Regions from separate parts of the Homo sapiens genome. Here region 2 is linked to region 1. The links come from fine-mapping of genetic effects on gene expression. A gene starts in region 1. The other region holds a variant in brackets. All regions are shown on one strand. Distances are from middle to middle. Region 1 holds the start of LINC01644 (long intergenic non-protein coding RNA 1644). Region 2 has its middle 290 kb from the start of EPIC1.

Region 1 (5,379 bases):
TGAAGTAGCTACTATTATTTCTGTTTTATACAGAAGAACACTGAATCTAAGTGTAGTACTGAAGTTGCTTGAAGTATTACAGCTAACAGGTGGAGGAGCTGGGGTATAAATCCAGACTGCCTGGCTTCAGAGCCTGTTCCATTAACATACAAAATTCAAGTCCACTCCTGTATTCTAGTAACAACAACTGAGAAACTATAATGGAAGGAATAAGAGATGATGAATACACTTAAGATAATAGCAAAAAACTCTAAGGTACCTAGGAATGTATCTATCTAACAGCATATGTGCACAACACATATGGAGAGCATATATGGGACTTCCTGTTTCAGCCCCAATATGGAAACAGCACGGAAGTCACCCCCTCTCATCGTCACATCAGGGAAAACACTGAACAGACTGAACCTCAATGACTTTACCTAGATCCATCAGCTAATTGAGATCACAGAGCAAACCAGCCTCTCTGAAGTTTGTAGAGAAAGGTGAAGACAGAGAATCATAGCCACGATTAGTTTACCTGAGACTAAAACCACTGGTGCCTGTAACTGGTAGAGCCACTTTAACACTAATTTTGACAAATTGCCAGAGGCTGAGTGTGGACTAGCCTGAGAGTTAAAACCTCTTGGGGCCCAGTCTTAGGGGGACTGCAACAGGCTCATGTATTTCACCTGCTGAAACCCCAGCAGGTTCTTGCCATAAAGATCAGAGAAAAGTGTTTTAGAAAGGGGAGGGGAAAAGAACCATTTTGAAAGATGACCAGAAAATTCTCCTTAACAAAGCCGTGACTTCCAACAGTTTCCCCTTGTCTGACCTGGAGGAAGAGCGACTGGCCTGCTCAAGCCCCCTGTAGCTTTCCTGTCTCATGTAAGGAGAGACAAAAAGCCGCCAAAATTTCCTTTGCCTTAAAGATCAGAGAAAAGTGTTTTAGAAAGGGGAAAGCTTTAAAGTGGCCCTGCTGTTACAGGCGCCAGCGGTTTTAGTCTCAGGTAAACCAGTCTTGGTCATGATTCTCTGTCTTCACCTTTCGGCCGGGCGTGGTGGCTCATGCCTGTAATCCCAGGACTTTAGGAGACCGAGATGGGCAGATCACAAGGTCAAGAGATAGAGACCATCCTGGCCAAGACAGTGAAACCCCGTCTCTACTAAAAATACAGAACTTAGCTGGGCATGGTGGCATGAGCCTGTAGTCCCAGCTACTCATGAGGCTGAGGCAGGAGAATCGCTTGAACCAGGGAGTCGGAGATTGCACTGAGCCAAGATCGCACCACTGCACTCCAGCCTGGCGACAGAGTGGGACTCCATTCCAAAAAAAAAAAAAAAAATTACAGAATCTTCCCCTTACCACCACGTCAATAGGGTTCCAGGATAGTAACAGTGGATTACAACCCAGACAGCTGTAAGACACAGGTTCTTATATAAGAAGTTCATAGGAAACCCCGAAGAAAATGGGGAAAAACACAAGAAAACTAAAGCCCCTGGGATATACAACGACAGCAATCATTACACGCAGTCTAACTCCTGGCCAGATTAATATAAAACCTCACACCAAAAGCCTAATTGCCTCCGTTTTTATTACCTGATGCATCATGTCTGGCTTCTAACAAAAAATTAAAAGGCAAGAGAAAAACACAGAACAAGGCTCAGATATAACAAAGATTTGAAAATTATCCAAAAAGGAACTTAAAATATCTGTGAGTCATTGTTATGGGCTCTAATGAAAAAAGTAAATGACATGTAAATGTAAGCAGAGAGATGAAAACTTTAAAAGAATCAAAAGGAAATGCTAGATATCAAATGCCTCAAGACTCATCTGCGATTCCATCCTCAGCCTTGTCACCCCTCGGTCCCCACCCCACCATGGTGCTTGCTGTGTGTTTTCTTGACCTTGCTGTTCACCTAACCCCCTGGAAGGTGCTGTCCCAACCTCACCTGTGTCCCCTTTCTGGGCTGCTTACCTAGACCACTTGGCCTGGGCTGGCTGTGCCCAGGGGGAGGCTGGGAACATCGGCCGGCTACGCCCTGAGGTAGCTCAGATGCCAGTGTCCCACGGTGAGGACACCTCCGAGGCCGGCTCCGTGTCATCTGCTGGATGGGGCTGAACCCCAGTTGTCCTTCATGGGAATCTTCTCCTGAACCTTGCTGTGTGGGCTGCTTTCTCTTCCTTCCACCAGAGCTTCCTGGATGAAGCCCAGCATAAATGTCTTGTGCTTATCCCCATTCTGGAGGCTTCCAAGCAAGCGTAAACTCTGAAAGGGCAGGGGCCGTGAGTGCTGACTGCTTCTCTGGTCACCGTCTCACGGCCTGCCACAGACCTGTGCAGGATAAGGTGGCTACATGAATAACCAAAGGAAGGCGTGGCTGCTGGAGTGAAGTTGTAATGCACACCTACGTGTTCCAGGAAGAGGAAGTTTAGAGTTCACAAACACATCTTAGTGTTTAGACTTACTTCTGAATGTAAAGGCCCCTAGCACAACAGAAAGGGCATTTAAGGAGAGAAAGCTTAGGAACTCTGACACCTAGGAACTTGCTCTGAGATTTCACCACTCCTGTGTCCTTTCGTTAATCTGCCAGATGTTCCTGATCAGCCAATGTTTGGAAGAAGGGTAGTTACTGGTCTGCAGCAGGGCACTGGGGCAGGACGCGAGGAGGAAGGCACTGCTTTGGGCCCGGGCAAGGGCCAACTATATGTGACCCCAGGAGCTCCCCTTTTCCACCCCAGGGGCCCCACCTTTGTGTCCAGAGGCCCCTCTACCTAACTGTGTCCTGCATTCGTGGGTTCTTGGTCTCACTGACTTCAAGAACGAAGCCACGGACCCTTGCAGTGAGTGTTACAGCTCTTAAGGTGGTGCGTCTGGAGTTTGTTCCTTCTGATGTTCGGACGTGTTCGGAGTTTCTTCCTTCTGTGTGGGTTCGTGGTCTAGCTGGCTCAGGAGTGAAGCTACAGACCTTCGCGGTGAGTGTTACAGCTCTTAAGACGGCGCATCTGGAGTTGTTCATCCCTCCCGGTGGGCTCGTGGTCTCGCTGGCTTCAGGAGTGAAGCTGCAAACCTTAGCGGTAAGTGTTACAGCTCATAAAAGCAGTGTGGACCCAAAGAGTTAGCAATAGCAACATTTATTGCAAAGAGCAAAAGAACAAAGCTTCTACAGCGTGAAAAGGGATCCCAGCAGGTTGCCGCTGCTAGCTTGGGCAGCCTGCTTTTATTCACTTATCTGGCCCCACCCACATCCTGCTGATTGGTAGACCCGAGTGGTCTGTTTTGACAGGGCGCTGATTGGTGCGTTTACAATCCCTGAGCTAGACCCAAAGGTTCTCCAAGGCCCCACCAGAATAGCTAGATACAGAGTGTGGACTGGTGCATTCACAAACCCTGAGCTAGACACAGGGTGCTGATTGGTGCATTTACAATCCCTTAGCTAGACATAAAGGTTCTGCAAGTCCCCACCAGACTCAGGAGCCCAGCTGGCTTCATCCAGTGGATTCCGCACCGGGGCTGCAGGTGGAGCTGCCTGCTAGTCCCGCGCCGTGCGCCGGCACTCCTCAGCCCTTGGGCGGTGGATGGGACTGGGCGCCGTGGAGCAGGGGGCGGCGCTCGTCGGGGAGGCTTGGGCCGCACAGGAGCCCATGGAGGGGGTGGGAGGCTCAGGCATGGCGGGCTGCAGGTCCCGAGCCCTGCCCCGCGGGAAGGCAGCTAAGGCCCGGCGAGAAATGGAGCGCAGCGCCAGTGGGCCGGCACTGCTGGGGGACCCAGTACACCCTCCGCAGCCACTGGCCCGGGTGCTAAGCGCCTCACTGCGCGGGGCCGGCAGGGCTGGCCGTCTGCTCCGAGTGCGCGGCCCGCCAAGCCCACGCCCACCCGGAACTCCAGCTGGCCCGCAAGGGCCGCGCGCAGCCCGGGTTCCCGCTCGCGCCTCTCCCTCCACACCTCCCTGCAAGCTGAGGGAGCCGGCTCCGGCCTCGACCAGCCCAGAAAGGGGCTCCCACAGTGCAGCGGTGGGCTGAAGGGCTCCTCAAGTGTCACCAAAGTGGGAGCCCAGGCAGAGGAGGTGCCCAGAGCGAGCGAGGGCTGTGAGGACTGCCAGCACGCTGTCACCTCTCCTAACCACCTGGACTCAGGTCAGCTCTTCCTTTCCCTCCTGTAAAATTCATCATTTGCATTTACATGTTGTTTCTAGTGTTTTTGCAAGAATAACATTTTTATTTTTATGTGGTATATAGTAAAGTCCATCAATCGCCCCCTTTATGGTGCTTTCCTTGGATGTTTTGCATGGGAACGGCCTCCTGTCACGAGGTCAGAAAAACATCGATTTCCATTTCCCCCCAGTCCTGCCGTGGTTTCTGTCTTCACCCCATACAGCACTTACCTCCTTAATTGGCAAATGAGGTGAGGTAGGAGTCAAGCTGGAGACCTGCCCCAGAGGTGGACGATTCTGCAGCCCTTTACGGCCCTCTCTAAATGGAAATGCCACTGTGCCAGCTCCTGAATCCTAATGTGTGGAAGTGTCTGCCTGTGGCCTTATTTATTATACTCTTGCCTTAGCATCGAACTGTTTTAGTTTGTATTGCCTTATAGTCCTTTCCTCTCTCTCTTTTCAAAAAAGAAGGAACAGAGAATAAATAGCATGACTGAAGTCCATGCACCTACCAGCTAGCATGAGCAACTATTAACATTCTGGAAGTTTCCTTTAGTTATCTCTCTTTTATAAAACAAATCCAGGCCTTCAGAAAAAATTGAAGACCTCTCCAGGGTTTCTTCTCCTGTGGCTGACCCTCTCTGTCTCTCCCCAGAATCTGTCACTGTCATGAAGTTTGTGTCACTTTTCTTTTGCAATCAACATCATGTATTTTTATTACCTAGATATATAGGTACGCACGCACGCGCACACACACACACACACACACATATGTCTAGCAATCATAATGCTGTTCTAAGTTTTTAAAATGTACGAATATAGCATTCTATGTTATTGGCTTTTACATTTTTTTACTAGTATTTTTGAGACCTAAAATTCATTGTTACTGTTTCGTTGTATTTTTTCATATCACTCCATAGAATGTTATCTACTCATTTCTTTGTGGACTGACACTTGCAGTGCCGTGGTGGACGTTTGTGTGATGTCATTGTGGAAGATGGCGTGTTCCTTTAGGATGCCTGCCTGGGAATGGAGCGTCTAACCTGCAGAGCATCCTCTGAGGATATCGGCAGAGTTTTTAGCAGAGATGTTGTGGCAGTTTATCCCCCGCTGGCTGCATGCGTGTTCTGTTGATTTGCACATCCTTACCAATCCTTGGTGTGGCTGGAACTGGGGATGTTTACAATGCTGTTCACTGTGGTTTAATTTCCATTTCCTTGGTCACTTAGAAAAGTGGGACTCCGGCTG
Region 2 (5,379 bases), 430 kb after region 1:
TCTCAACAGTGCCCCCATGTGCCAGCCACAACAGTCGTGTAAATGTTGCTTTCTCTCATAATTTCCCATTTTGGAATTGTTATAATTCCTTCCCCACCTCCTGTAGGTGGTATGCTTGGGGTTCTGGGGGTTCTATGATATGTGCATATATATAGTATAGGAATGATACATATATTCCGATATAACCGTATCACAGGAATATATGTATGTGTGTGTGTATACGTATATATCTTCCTTCCTTCCTTTCTTCCCTCCTTCTTTCCTTCCTTCCTTCCTTCTTCTCTTTCTTCCTTTGCATAGGTACTTTCTGAGTGGCATTACATGACAGGCATTTGTATAAGGACAAGGGATATATGAGAAAAAGGTAATTCAGCAAACAGGATCTCTGGAATGTTCAGAACACATGGGGTAAACCACGTGTATTAGTCAGGATTCTCTAGAGGGACAGAACTATATATATATATATATATATATATATATATATATATGATGGGATATATATATATATATATATGATGGGATATATATATATGATGGGATATATATATATATATATATATGATGGGATATATATATATGATGGGATATATATATATATGATGGGATATATATATATATATGATGGGATATATATATATACGATGGGATATATATATTTCATATATTCTGTATATATATTCACTGAAATAAGGAAATATACATATTCCATATATTCTGTATATATACAGAAATAATTTTATATATATATAGATAGATATATAAAGGGGAGTTTATTAAGTATTAACTCACATGATCACAAGGTCCTACAATAGGCTGTCTGCAGGCTGAGGAGCAAGGAGAGCCAGTCCCAGTCCCAAAACTGAAGAACTTGGAGTCCGATGTTCGAGGGCAGGAAGCATCCAGCACAGGAGAAAGATGTAGGCTGGGAGGCTAGGCCAGTCTCTCTTTTCACATATTTCTGCCTGTTTATATTCTAGCCATGCTGGCAGCTGATTAGATGATGCCTACCCAGATTAAGGGTGGATCTGCCTTTCCCAGCCCAGTGACTCAAATGTTAATCTCCTTTGGCAACACCCTCACAGACACACCCAGGATCAATACTTTGTATCCTTCCATCCAATGAAGTTGACACTCAGAACTAACCATCACGCCATGACATAGGACAAGTTATTGCCTGGGACAAAAATGAGCTCATAAACAAAGAAGCTTCCTTACATACAGATTTTATAGATTCTCTAGTAAAAACAACTTCCAAGGTCACCTCCTCCTCCTCCCAGTCCTCTGTCCGCCCCCCCACAGCCTGAGCACCCACATCATAAATGGGGAGCAGCTGGTGTCCCAGATTTTGGGACCCTTCCCTGTCCTTGGCGTCTGATGCTCTATGGCTTCTTGGACATTTGTTTTATTCACAAACACTGAAGAATCAGTTTAATTAGACATCTTCCAATTCTATGTCAAGCCCTTGGAAATCCCAAGTGTTTAGCAGTTAGGAGGGAGGGTATAAAGGCTCCTGCTGAGGTCACAGTCTGGGGGCAGGATTGGGCCGGAGGGGCAGCCTTAGAGAGGATGCAATTAGCTGGTATTGAAAATAACAGAAGAAAGAAATCCTCAGGTGCAGGGCCACTCACACACACCTTGACGTAAGGGTCAGCAAACGAGGAAGGAGAAAAATTGAGTGAGTTCTCAGATGTTTATCATTAGCAGAAACCCACTGGGTAGGCTTAGATTATTAGTGTAACTCAGTGGCACTCACCCTGCACAGAACCATGAACAGGCACTGCTTCCCAAAAGCAATGGGCCCAATCCCAGGGCCCTCTGTAATCTGTCCTGATGCATGGTTAAAAGCTTAGTATTGCGACTCTTTAATTTAGAAAAATCAATCAAACTTTGACAATTTTTCCTTCTTCCCTCCCTCTCCTTCCTCCCTTTACTGCCTCCCTCCCTCTCCTTCCTCCCTAGTCCCTCTCCTTCCTCCCTAAGTCCCTCTCCCTCTTCTCTCTCCTTCCTCCCTGTCCTTCCTCCCCTCCTCCCTCTCTTTACTGCCTCTCCCTCCTCCCTCTCCTTCTTCCCTCTCCTTCCTCCTTGTCTCTCCTCCCTCTCCTTCCTCCTTCTCCTTCCTCCCTACCTCCCTCTCCCTCCTCCCTCTCTTTCCTCCCTCCCTCTCCTTTCTCCCTTCCTTCTCTTCTTCCTTCAGTTAGGAAGGAAGTGCCATTACATGCCAGGCACTGGTATCAGGACAGGGGATACAAAGAAAATGCCTAATTCATGCAAGTCATTTTAGCTTGCACCCGGTATGTCTTGGATTGCTAGTTCTGAGAGAAAGGAACCAGCGCACCAGGAAGACCCTCAGGCAGCCCCATGGACAGTTCTGTGCAGAGAGGGATCCAGGCCCCCAGCCAACAGCTGGCAACAAATGCCACTCATGTGGATGAGGCCTTGGAAGTAGACCCTTCATCTCAATCAAACTTTGATGACTACAGCCTGGCCAACATCTGACTGCAGACAGGAGAGACCCCAAGCGAGGACTACCCAGCAAACTCTTCCCAAATGTATGGCTCATAGAATCTGTGTACACGATAAAGGCCCCTAAGTGCTGGGGTGATCCATCATGCAACATTCGATAACTGCAACAGACACTGAGCCCAGTGGTTGGTGCACCATCAATGCTCAGACAGTGGTGGCTGCTGCTTCTGTCAAATAACAGCAGTTCCATGTTCTGACAGATGTCCTAGATTATTCCAGGAAGTCGCATGGCTCCAGACTCCCTCCACACCCACAGTGCCCCCTGAGGAAGCCTGGCCCCACAGATGGTGACTGGCGGGAGCCATCAGACCCCCTGTCTGATTGATTGCACTTGAGTGCTAGAGAGGAGGCCATGAGAGAAAGTCACACACGTGAAACTCACAC[G/A]GGAAACCACAGCCTCTGCACCTCCGCAGGACACGGCACGGTAGCTCAGCCAGAGCCTTGGCGACCTTGGGTGCCCTTCGCGAGCTCCTGCTTCCGGAGCCGGCTCTGCAGCTGTTCTTCCTCCTCTTGTGTCTCTTGTAGCTTATAATAAAAATCTCTCTCTGGGAATTTCTTTGTTCTTTGAGCATTTCTTTGTTTCTTGCAGCCTAAAAGAGCCCATCTCAAACAACAAGGGTCTGGGTGGAGGAAGGGTTAAGGACATCTTATTTAGACTCAAAGAGCCCAATCAAGCCTTCTGCCTGAATGGAATGATTTGTGCAGTTCCTCGGTGAGACAAGAAGCTGCTTCTCTGCTCTGCCTACTAAGAAGGCCTGGATTTCCATACATAAGTAGATAAACACAACGTGCTGAAGGCAGACAGGGAAAGCAAGAAAGAACACACTATTCATTAACTTCTCCGCTTCCTAATAGGATCACCACGGGCTGAGCAACATTTCTGCTTGAGTACCCCAGCACAAAGCCCTGTCTGGGCCTCAGCCACCTGGTAATTCTCAATTAGGCTCCACGGCAGCACTAACGGCTGGCTGTTGGCTCCTACAGGTAGAGCTTATTCAACAAGGGGCCCGAGCTGTATGCCCGGAGATCACGCATGCCCAGCCTGCTGGGCCACCGTGGGCGCTGGGCAGTCTCTCTGCATTTGACCCTTTCATGATGCAGCTCCCAGTTCCCTGGGGTGGGGGCTGAGGAGCCTGGCAAGCCAGTGTGGCCATCCCCAAGTTACTCAGCACCACAGGCAGCAGCATTTTACAGCACATAGGAGGGAGCAAACCTTGCAAAAATGGATCGATAGAGACTGCTTATTGAAAGAACCTTGAACAAGCACATGTGTAAGGATTGAGAATGTGGTGTCTGAACTGGCAGCATGTGCCCAGAGCAGCACAGACCTCCCAGGAAAATGAAGAGAGGAAATCGAGGTCCCAGCAGCCCCAAGGCCCTATCTTCCTGTTTCTGCAATCACAGAGTCTTCACCTTGCCTTTTGCTCAAAGCACCGGACATCAACCTGTGGGCCATTGTCCACATTTGGCTGTCTGTACCTAGACCTGCACTGATGGATGTGGCATGCTCAGAGGTGGAGCAGATTCAGGCTGTTGTCAACAATGGTTTTGAACTCACCATCATGTTCTAAGTTAAATATTCCTCCGTGCATCATCCACCTGAATGGTTGTTCTGTGATCCCTGGAACAAGAAGATAGAGCTCCAAATGGCACAACCAGATAAGCATCACCCACCCCCGCTCAAGAATTCTGTTCGAAGTGTGCTTATTCCCACCTGGGCACACAATGTACCCATACAATAAAGCTTGCTGAAGTTGCAAACCTGCCCGAACATGGGGCTCTCCTACGTGACCATGCACCTAAAGGGCTCCAATCCCTCTGCCAATCACCCTAAGAAGTTTCCAACCTGCTCCATTTGGCTGAGAATCCTTTACTGGCTCCCCATCACCAGTGTGAATTAAGTCGCACCCCCTTAGCCTTCCTCCAGAGCCTTCTCTGAATTGACCCAGCCTGGATTTCACCTGTCAGTCATTCTTTGATATCCTTGTCTGTGAGTCCCTTATCCTGAATATGCTGAGCCCCTACTGAATACGCCCTCCCACCGTGAGGCAGGATAGCGCCGTGTGGAAGGCACAGGCCTGTGGATCAGACAGACCTGGACTCTGATTACTTAATCTGTTTGAACCTCAGTTTCCTCATCTATAAATTCAAAATACTCATCATCGTCTGTGCTGTGTAGGGTTGGCAAGAGGATTACACGTCAGTCCTGGAAAGCAGGACTCAAGGCCCAGCATGCAGTGCACACTAACCACCCGTCGACACTCCAGGGCCCCCCACTCTAAGCATGCCTACTGTGTGGTGAAGTCACTGCCTTCATTGCGGTTATGGCCATCATCCTCCTCACTTCTGCCTTTCCCGTGGTGACCTGGACTCCTTCTCACCCCTTCCTGCATGGCCCCTGCTCACCCCTTCCTTTCCCAGCCTCTGCTGGAGGCTCCAAGCTCCAGATCCTGATGTAGGGCCAGCCTTGACCATGTCTGCCTGAGCCTGGATTGCTGTTCTGTGGCTGGACTTTGTGGGGATTTGCAACAGCCGAGCCTCACCATGCCCAGCTCAGAGGCCGTCCTTAGCATGAGTCCTTTCATGTGACATCATTTAATTAAGTGTTATATTGTATGGGTCTATAAATGTCCACCTGAATTTAAATCTGCCAATAAAACTAAAAATCTCCTATAAAAGGAAGACAATGATTGTGAGCAGATATGGCCAAATGCCCATAAATCAGAAGGGGTGATGTCTCCAGGCAGAGGCTGGAATTGGAGTCACTAAGTCAGGTAGGGACCATCACCCACAGCCAAGGGGCCTTTCTTTCAGATGCCACTGTGTACATTTAGGATGTGATGATCTGAAGTGTGG

Evidence for each region.
Region 2: its variant is fine-mapped to the expression of LINC01644 in whole blood (TOPMed, PIP above 0.99).

The regions. Positions count from the first base shown.
Region 1 is chr22:47,484,775-47,490,153 of GRCh38, forward strand. It overlaps LINC01644 (long intergenic non-protein coding RNA 1644), which reads right to left and starts at 2,337. Exons shown (of 3, transcript NR_109967.1): 1 at 1,956-2,337.
Region 2 is chr22:47,915,807-47,921,185 of GRCh38, forward strand. No RefSeq gene overlaps it. Among named protein-coding and RNA genes, the nearest start is that of EPIC1, 290 kb to the left of the region's middle. The variant G/A (reference allele first, on the strand shown) is at 2,908.